2 separate regions of the Homo sapiens genome follow, and region 1 is linked to region 2. Evidence: fine-mapped expression QTL. A gene starts in region 2. The other region holds a variant in brackets. All regions are shown on one strand. Distances are from middle to middle. Region 1 overlaps LY75-CD302 (LY75-CD302 readthrough). Region 2 holds the start of MARCHF7 (membrane associated ring-CH-type finger 7).

Evidence for each region. PIP is the estimated chance that this variant, and not a neighbour inherited with it, causes the effect. A credible set is the group of variants that fine-mapping cannot tell apart.
Region 1: its variant is the best candidate, but not a certain one, in a credible set for the expression of MARCHF7 in lymphoblastoid cells (TwinsUK, PIP 0.70).

The regions. Positions count from the first base shown.
Region 1 is chr2:159,816,866-159,822,397 of GRCh38, reverse strand. LY75-CD302 (LY75-CD302 readthrough) reads left to right here. Exons shown (of 38, transcript NM_001198760.1): 29 at 2,478-2,672; 30 at 5,366-5,532. LY75 (lymphocyte antigen 75) reads left to right here. Exons shown (of 35, transcript NM_002349.4): 29 at 2,478-2,672; 30 at 5,366-5,532. Among named protein-coding and RNA genes, the nearest start is that of CD302, 21 kb to the right of the region's middle. The variant AG/G (reference allele first, on the strand shown) is at 2,992.
Region 2 is chr2:159,710,417-159,715,416 of GRCh38, reverse strand. It overlaps MARCHF7 (membrane associated ring-CH-type finger 7), which reads right to left and starts at 2,911. Exons shown (of 12, transcript NM_001282805.2): 1 at 2,811-2,911; 2 at 819-860. It also overlaps a transcript of BAZ2B not described here. RefSeq lists silencers at 2,313-2,432, 2,953-3,462 and enhancers at 2,623-2,902, 2,670-3,336.

The sequences.
Region 1 (5,532 bases), 110 kb before region 2:
CGTAAAACTGCCTACTCGAGCCTCAGCAATGGCGGATGCCACTCCCCCGACCAAGCTCTAGCGTCCCAGGTCAATCTCAGACTGCTGCTATGCTGGCAGCGAGAATTTCAAGCCAGTAGATCTTAGTTTCCTGGGCTCCATAGGGGTGGGACCCACCTAGCCAGACCACTTGGCTCCCTGGCTTCAGCACCCCTTTCCAGGGGAGTGAACAGTTCTGTCTCACCGGCATTCCAGGCACCACTTGGGTATGGGGAAAAAAGAACTCCTGCAGCTAGTTTGGTGTCTGCCCAAATGGCTGCCCAGTTTTGTCCTTGAAACCCAGGGCCCTGGTGGGGTAGGCACCAGAGGGAATCTCCTCGTTTGCAGGTTGCAAAGACCCTGGGACAAGTGCACTATCTGTGCCAGAGTTCCTCAGGCTCAGTCCCTCATGGCTTCCCTTGGATAGGGGAGAAAATTCCCCGACCCCTTGCATTTCACAGGTGAGGCAATGCCCCACCCTGCTTCAGCTCGCCCTCTGTGGGCTGCACCCACTGTCCAACCAGTCCCATTGAGATGAACCCGGTACCTCAGTTGGAAATGCAGAAATCACCTGCCTTCTGCATCAATCTTGCTTGGAGCTGCACACTGGAGTTGTTCCTATTTGGCCATCTTGCCAGCAATCCATCACAAAAGTGTTTTTCTTTTGTCATTTGTGCATATGTAAGAAGGCTTTGCTTACCCCAGGGTTATGAAGACTTACTCCTATGTTTTCTTTCTTTTCTTTTCTTTTTTTTTTTTTGAGACAGACTTTTGCTCTTGTCACCGAAGCTGAAGTGGTGCAGTGGCATGATCTTGGCTCACTGCTACCTCTGCCTCCTAGGTTCAAGCAGTTCTCCAGCCTCAGCCTTCTGAGTACCTGGTATTACAGACAACCGCCACCACGCCCAGCTAATTTTTGTATTTTTAGTAGAGATGGGGTTTTACCATGTTGGTCAGGCTGGTCTCGAACTCCTGACCTCAGGTGATCTGCCCACCTCAGCCTCCCAAAGTGCTGTGATTACAGGGGTGAGCCACCATGCCTGGCCTTCCATGTTTTCTTCTAAAGATTTTATAGCTGTAGCGCTTATATTTATGTCTGTGATCTACTTTAATTTTTGTGTGTGGTGAAAGAAAGGGGTCCAACTTCATTTTTTTTTTTTTTTTACATGTGGATATCCAGTTTAGAAGACTATTCTTTCCACACTGAATTGTCTTGGCATCCTTCTTAAAAATCAATTGACTGGCCAGGCACGGTGGCTCATGCCTATAATCGCAGCAATTTGGGAGGCCAAGGCGGATGGATTATGAGATCAGGAGTTCAAGACCTGCCTGGCCAAGAGGGTGAAACCCCATCTCTACTAAAATATACAAAAGTTAGCCAGCCGCGGTGGTGGGCACCTGTAATCCCTGCTACTCGGGAGGCTGAGGCAGAGAATTGCTTGAACCCAGGAGGTGGAGGTTGCAGTGAGCTGAGATCGTGCCACTGCACTCCAGCCTGGGTGACAGAGTGAGACTGTGTCTCAAAGAAAAAAAATATTAATTGACCATAAGTATGCACAACTGTGAACAGTTTATGTCCAGAGAAGAGATTTCTGTGGTGACTTTTATAACTTATCAATCATGTTTTAAATAAATAAAATAGTTATGTTCATTTCCATGCAATTAAACGTATATGTAAGAGAAAATAATATTTTTTTATTTCAATAGGTTTTTGGGGAACAGGTGGTGGTTGGTTACATAGATAAGTTCTTTAGTGTTGACTTCTGAGATTTTGGTGCACCCATCACACGAGCAGTGTACACTGTACCTAGTGTGTAATCTTTTATCCCTCATCCCCTCCCACTCTTCCCCCCGAGTTCCCAGAGTCTATTGTATCATTTTATGCCTTTGCATCCTCATAGCTTAGCTCCCACTTGGTGAGAACACACAATGTTTGGTTTTCCATTCCTGAGTTACTTCACTTAGAATAATGATCTCCATTTCCATTCAGGTTGCTGCGAATGCCATTATTTCATTCCTTTTTATGGCTGAGTAGTATTCCATGGTACATATATACCACATTACCACATTTTCTTTGTTCACTTGTTGATTGATGGGCATTTGGGCTGGTTCCATATTTTTGCTATTGTGAATTGTGCTGCTATAAACATGCATGTGCAAGTATCTTTTTCATATAATGACTTCAAGAAAAGAATATTTGATGACAAAAATGAAATGTTATTACTGAAGGATGGTGGAATTATAGGTCAATATTTATAGTTTGTATTTATATTCAAATTAAAAATGAGCATGATTTACTGTTATAATCAGAAAATATCTTAAAGGGTTATACATAATCATACAACCTTTTAGAAGGTTGGGAAAAGAGAAAATTAGTCAAGTTTGAAATCTTAACTGTATAAGTGTAATTCAAGTCTTGATTTAATCTCTAAGCATAGGAAAAAATGTTTCTTCTCTAGATAAGTCTCTTATGTGGTTTGATAAGACCCCACTGTCATATACACATTGGAGAGCAGGAAGACCAACTATAAAAAATGAGAAGTTTTTGGCTGGTTTAAGTACTGACGGCTTCTGGGATATTCAAACCTTTAAAGTTATTGAAGAAGCAGTTTATTTTCACCAGCACAGCATTCTTGCTTGTAAAATTGAAATGGGTAAGTATAGTAAAATATAGAGTTTTCTTTCACTCCAGGGAAAGAATATAAGGCTATTAGTTCCACCAGTGGGAATCATACAATCAAATGCTTCCTCTGTATTCAGTCCTGTGCGAGGTGTTACAGAGGTTATCGAGGAAGGAAAAGATACGGGCCCTGCTGTCAAGGTTTTGACCCTAAGGAGTAAAATGTAGTTGTGGAGACAGCATTAAATTCCTTATCATTGTTTAATGTAAATTGGTCTTAGATTAATTGATACAGGCTTAAATTGTGGGGAAGTCAAAACCGATACATTGGAAAGGGGAATAACAAAAAAAAA[AG/G]GAAAGGCTTCAAGAAGAGGTGAAACTTGGTTGGGGTTTGAAAAATGGATAGGGTTTATATAAATAAGAAAGTGTTTGGGGAACGAGTTTTAACATTCCGTGCAAAGTGAATGTCTCTCCACCTTGCTTAATCTTTAAATAAATCTATTTTTAAATATATGTTAGTTTTAATTTTTTCACAGCTTAAAAACTGTTAATTATTACCACTGTGCCCTAAAACTGTCATTACTCCCACTGTGCCCAAAGCTCCCTGCTCACTGGGAGCCCGTAAAGGTGGAGTGCTGGCTAGTTGGCTCACTTACAGCGCCGCAGTCACTTCCCAAGACCGTGTCCACCAGCAACCTCCAGGGATTCCTTATTCTAACCTACTTTGAGTGCATGTAAACTTTTGAGACATTTTAGAAACTTAGTCTCTATCCCCAGTTTCTAGGCCTTCTCCCAGTTCCCTGTTTTTCCCCATTCTTGCTCAGCAAAGCATCTTTTTCTCAATCAAGCTGGTCTCTTCATTGTCCCAGGCACAGTGTATGCCCATCCTCATACTTGCACCTTTATGTTTTCCTTCTGCCAAGAAGTTTTCCAATTTCTTTCTTTCTTTATTTTTTTTACATCTTTAATAAACTTTTCATTTTAGGATAGCTTTAGAGTTACAGAAAAGTTGCAAAGATAGTACAGAGCATTCCCATCTACCCTACAATCAATTTCCCCTACTGTTGGCATATTACTTTAGTATGGTACATTTGTCACAACTAATAAACCAATATTTATCCATTATTATCTTTAACTAAAGTCCACACATTATTCAAATTTCTGTAGTTTTTATTTAACATACTTTTTCTTTCTAGGATCCCACCTAACCTTTAGTTCTCCTGCCTCCTTAAGCTCCTCTTGGCTGGCTGTTTTCTCAGACTTTTCTTATTTTTGCTGGCCTTGACAGTTTTGAGGAACACTGGTCATGTATTTGGTAGAACGTCCCTCAGTTTGGGTTGGCGTATGTTTTTCTCATGATTAAACTGGGGTTATAAGTTTTTGAGGGAAGACCAAAGATGTGAGGGAGCATTCTCACTTCACATGGACAGCATGTACTATTCATATGACTTATCACTGGCCACCTGGCCCAAGGTAGTGTTTGTTAGGTTCTCTGCTGCAAAGTTACCTCTTTTCCTCCTTTCCATACTGTCTTCTTTCCAAGGAAGTCACTATGTTGAGTCCACACTTAATAGGGTAGAAAGTTATCCTCCACCTTCCTATGAGGGGAGTATCGATATAAATTACTTGAAATTCTTCTGCACAGGATATTTGTCTATTTTCTCCAATTTTTATTTTATTTTATTATTTTATTTATTTATTTATTTTTTTGGAGATGGAGTCTTGCTCTGTCACCCAGGCTGGAGTGCAGTGGCGCCATCTCAGCTCACTGCAACCTCTGCCTCCTGGGTTCCAGCGATTCTCCTGCCTCAGCCTCCCAAGTACCTGGGATTACAGGCACGCCCCACCATGCCCAGCTAATTTTTTGTATTTTTGGTAGAGACGGGGTTTCACCATGTTGGCCAGGATGGTCTTGAACTCCTGACCTCAGGTGATCCCCCCGCCTTGGCCTCCCAAAATGCTGGGATTACAGGCGTGAGCCACTGCACCTGGCCCCAATTTTTAAATTTATTCAGTCATTTATTTATACCCTCATCATTGTAGTTTTTTTGTTATTTGTTTGTTTGTAGCACTTCCATACTTTCTCCTTACCTTCTTTTTATTCTTGATTTCCCCCAATCCTCTAGACCTAGTATAGGTTCATTGTTATTTATTTTATACTTTGGATTATAATCTAACATACTGCATTCTGTAATATTTTGCTTAAGTCTTTCCAGCTTTGGCCCTTGGGAGCTCTTTCACTTGGCTCCCATGTCCCTTGAAATAACCTCGTCATTGTGGCTTTGCTGTTTGTGCTTGTTTTAAGCACTTCCTTACTTTCTGGTTCCCTTATTTCTTTTTAGTCTTAATTTCACCTAACCCTTGAGACCTGGTTTATCAAGTAGTCTTCCTGACTCTTCTCATTCAAATGAATCTCTACCAATTTCACATACCCTACTGGTTAACAGTTTTGCCATCATTTCAGCCATTGTTGTTTCTGTCTCCAACTAATATATGAGCTTCTTAAATCAAAGAAAATGTTTATGCCTTTTAAAATATCAATCAGAGAACTTTAAGAGCCTAAGATATGTGTCATACCAGTAAGAAAAATAAAATATACATTTGACCTCCCTTATTAATAAGAAACCCAGTTTTATTTAACTTTTGAAATGATTGCATGTTGTCTCATCCAAAAGATGTATTTGAAATAATTTAAATTTTAATCACCAGTGCTTTTAATTATTATAGTTGACTACAAAGAAGAATATAATACTACACTGCCACAGTTTATGCCATATGAAGATGGTATTTACAGTGTTATTCAAAAAAAGGTAACATGGTATGAAGCATTAAACATGTGTTCTCAAAGTGGAGGTCACTTGGCAAGCGTTCACAACCAAAATGGCCAGCTCTTT
Region 2 (5,000 bases):
TAAAAAACAGAGTGAGACCCTGTCACACACTCACACACACAAAATTATTACCCCCCCCACCTAAACTCTCAAATTATAATTTCATTCTCCCCAACTTCAGACTTTTTGGCTCATCCTATGATTAGCAAATGCTGTATATTAAGATAAATTTTTTGACTGCAATTGAATTCTGCTTTGGTGAATTCAAGTAATCTTAGTAGGAACTCAAAATCCGATTCTTTTTAAATTGTAATCATTCTAATGTGATCAGTTGATTCACTTATTTAACAGTTAAAAGCTTCATTAGTTAATTTGTTGTTTAAAAGTAAAGTCTAATGCAACGCTGTGCATTTCATTCATTCATGTCCCATTGTTCTTTATTACTGGCACTTAATTATCTGTGGTAACAGAAGGATGTATCAGCAAAGATTATCTAAAAATTATTTTTATTTTGTTAAGGAACACAATAGCTCTCCATTCCGCAGCATAGAGCACTAACTTTATTTTTATTTTTTTAGAGACAGGGTCTCACTCTGTGGTGCAGGCTGGAGTGCAGTGGAGCTCTATCATACCTCACTGCAGTCTCTGCAACTCGTGAGCTCAAAATGATCGTTCTGCCTCAGCAGCCCAAGTAGCTAGTAGTAGCAGTGCGCACCACTACACCCGCACCACCATGCCCGTAGAGATGGGGTCTTTGTGGCCTGGCTGAACTCCCAGCCTTAAGCGATCCTCCCACCTTGGCCTCCCAAAGTGACGGGATTACAGGAGTGAGCCACCACACCCAGACACTAATTTTCTAGTACAGTACAGAAAGTCTTTTATGTCGGGCTCTAACTTACCATTCAATGTATGTTTCAGCTACAGGAACAAATCATGAATTCCTAAAACAAACCATAATATCATGACTTTGCAGTTTCTTTATCAAAGTCCTAGTGAGCCTTCACATCTTAGTTCAGGCAATAAATAAATAAATCCTGTAAAATTTCCAAGATTAAGCACCCCTCCCCTATGCTCCCACAGAACCACTGTACAGTCATATTAAGATAATAATAGTTGTTTATACATTAGTCTGATGACTAAACAGTGAGTTGTGGAGGGCAGATGCCATGTCAAGCTCATTCTTGTAATGTGAAGCTCTCCATAATTTGTAATTTGACTACAACAAATTACAAATTATCTAAAAAAGTTTTAAGATATTTGACAGATTTTGCATTATAAAATTATTTTCCTACAATAAAATGTCAAAATGTAGACGATTCTTGAACATAGAGCAGATAAAAGAGTTGTGTAAGGTGGGTATGGAGCGGACTAAAAATTGGCTACATGAGAGTCATGGATGACTTTTGTGTCCAAGTTCGTTACCTGACACCTTCATGTAGAACATAACCTGGGCATCCTCGTGCTTTATCTGGGAAAATAGCCCTCTTCCAGGTGGCAGAAAAAAGAAATCATTTGTACTTGAATAAGTAGGAATTCTTAATTCAAGACACCTGACCCAGCACTAAACTTGGAAAAAAACCAAGACTAGTATTATGTCCCCTAGTGACTGCTTCACACACCACCTCAGCAAATTTAATCCTCTCTAGAAATTAACTGCCATGTTTCTGAGACAATCTCGTGAACTTAAATAACTATGGCAAAAATCAAGACTCAAACCCAGGTCTTCTGAGTCTGGTGCTACTGCCTCATGCACCAGTCCTGTCTCCCAAAATGCTGTAGAGCTGTTAAATAAAAATATTATACTGACCTCATTTCTCAAACAAACTTTTTGCTACCTCAAGTAAAAGATCTAGTTACACTACATGTGTGCCTTCTTAATAACTGTATACTATTGGATTTTTAAATCGAAAATTCATCTTTAATCCTACATCTTGGTTCTGGACAGAAAGGTGGAGATTTAAAATAACATGTAATCAGAAAAATAGCTAATCAATCCTACAAAATGGGGGAGAAAACCTCGCCAAATTTCAGTTTTCACACATTTAACTAATAGTAACAAACAACATTAGTCGTGACGAATTTATTACCCAGATAGACTTTCCCAATATATTTACTTTGGTACTTGAGAAAAAGTATTAAGTGCAGCATTTTGGGGTGAGGGGGTGGACACACATCTTCAATACGCAGTTTCACCAAAATGAGGGAGTTTCCTACTCCCGGCGCCTTCTATATTTTTACTTCTTAGGCCAACAGGTCCATTTTTAATACAATCACCTACTTCGAGTTGCAGAACCCACAATTCACCACAACACAAAAATAACTCTCAGGGCGTCACGATATTCAAAAACTGACGTTACCAATAAGACAATCTTGGCCGAATCTAAGGGGCTACCGAAGTCACTTCGACTCGAGGCCGGGCTGGCCGAGCCGGAGCCCTGCCCGCCTTTGCCCCGCGCTCACCGGCGAGCTCACGCGCGACACCCGCGGCCCGCAGGGCTCCGAAGACCCCCCGCCCCACGGCCCAAGAGGAGGCCGCCCCGCGCCAAAGGAGGGCTCAGGCTTCTTCCCGTCACCCGCCACACGTCCCTGAGGAAGACACACAATCTGTCCCCTGCACCCGCCACAAACTCCACCACCCGACCAAAGGCCCCTGGCAAGGGAGGCCTGCGCTGTGGCCCCTTGGCCCCGGTGGCCCCGGACCAAGCTTCTCCACCTCATCCTGAGAGGAAGCGGCCTCCGCGTCCCCAGGCCTCTTCGTTTCCTCCCCTCCCCCACTCGCGGCCTGGTCCCGAACTAGCGCCCAAGACGGAGAAGAACTAGCTCCGCAGCTCATTACCCCGGCTCCTGAGCCGGCACCGACCAGTGCGCGTCCCACTCGCAGCAACACGCACCGCCGCCTTTCTCCTTGGAGTTCTAGGCCCGTGACTGAGGAAATGCAGTCGGCAGCGAAGCACAATGGCGCCCGCCCCTCTCCCGGATCCGGCGCAGAACCAGCCACCACCGTTAAGTGCCCCTCCCTGCTCCTCCTCCCCCCACTTCGCGGACTTCCTGGCTTCTCGCGAGAGTGGCGGCGCGGCGGGGACCGAGAGCTGCGGGCGGGCTGGAGGTACCCCACCGCGGGGTGGTGCTCTGACTGCGGGAACCGTTGAAGAGCTGCCCCCGGGGAGTCAGCGAGGCGCCACTGGTAAGCGGCAGCGGCTGGCTGGCCGGCGTGCCGGCAGCTGGGCTGGCGAGTGTGCGGGCGCCGGGCGCTGGAGGCCCGGGCCGGGGCGGTCCCCGCCCGTCTATAGTCTCTGAGCCAGCCCCTTCCCTCCCGGGCGCCGGGTCCCCGCCCACAGGCCCACCTGCAGGGCCCCGTGCTCGAAATAACGCCCAGCTGGTTGGCTTTTTTTTTTTTTTTTTTTCTTTTTCTGGCTCTTGGTAAGTGGCGCAGTGAATGTTGAATTGAATCAAGCACTGCCTTTTCCGACCTACCCCTCCCCGCTTGCTTCCCTGCCCGCCCTGTGTGATCTAACTGCAAGCCCTTTCCCTTAAGAGTTGGAGCCTGTTTGTCCAACCTTGTGATCATTTCCTTGTGGTAAGAATCTTGGTAAATGATGGTGATCATGTCTTTTAAAATCGTGATAGTAACCTTTAATAGCGTAGCCATCGATTTTGCAGTAAACAAATTCACCTATTTAGAAAGAGGGAGGAAAATTGTGAGGTGAATGGTCTGGTGAATATTAGATGAAACTTTCAAAGAACTGTAAATGTGGCAAACTAAGATGTAAATGAGTACTAATAAATAAAAGGGAGTAGGTTAGGGAAAAGCTACATCTAACTATGTGTAAATATTTAGATGATATGTTGATTTGGAATAATGAATCAAAAGTTTTTTAATGGAAAAGATCAGTTATTGAAACTTGGAAGAATACTGAAAGGCACTTGATTTTTTTTAATGACCTATTTTGTTAAGGTATTAAAAGCAATCCTTTGGATCCAAATAATTCCAATAAATGAAACACAGTGTTTCTACGTGTTTGTCATTACATCGGAAGGGAATGGAGTATCAGTCACTATCATCCTTATTTTATTGTCTTGGGGACTAACAGACTGTACATGTTTCACTATGATAAATTCTAAAATACTATAAATTTTAAAGACTTAAAGGTATTTTAAGTTGGCATGTAAGTGCCAATCTAACTTTTAGGATATGAAATGAAAATAAGCATCTGGTATGGGATAAAGTGAACAGAGATTACTTTTGAGGAAATTAATTTGCCCTTTAAAGAAAAATAATTCTTTTCCAGCCTGTTCGAGTGCCCCTGCAGCATTGTGGTTATAGATACACGGATGTATACACCCTGAAGAACCAGACTATATGGCTTCAAATTCCACCCCTGCCTCTTACTACCTTTGTTATCTCAAGCAATTCCTTAACCTTGCTAAACCTAGGTTTCCTGTAAAACGGGGTTAATAACAGTACCCATGCTCTGTAGCATTGTTTAGATGAGATAACACGTCAGTTCCTGAAACAAGTAAGCATTCCGTAATTGTTAGCTATTACATTCCATGTCTAAACCACCAATAATATTGTTTCTTTCTGTGACTTAATATTACATAGGTCTCTTAGACATCTTCTCAAGATTATGCTAAGAGAAATGACTGCACCCTTTTCCTGAGCTATGGCAGTCAGACCTGGCAGTGGTAACTACTCTACAGAACTCCCAAACCTGGCAAGGATGGTGCAGATTTTGGCAGATTATGGCTTTGTCCCCACCCAGCACTGATGATATTATAAAGTGAGTATGACACCAATTTCCTATGCTAAACAGAGCTTCTAGTTTTTTATTGGTGCTAGTAAATAAAGACCACTGATGAATATGTTTTTATTATTTAAGAATGGTTCGTTGTGTTTCTTTTTAATGTACTCTCTCTGATTTTAGTATTCAGGTAATTATCATGAGTGATAAATAATTATTGAGATTTTGCTATGCTGCAGACATTTTGCAGCCGGGCGCCGTGGCTCATGCCTGTAATCCCAGCACTTTGGGAGGCCAAGGTGGGTGGATCACGAGGTCAGGAGATCGAGACCATCCTGG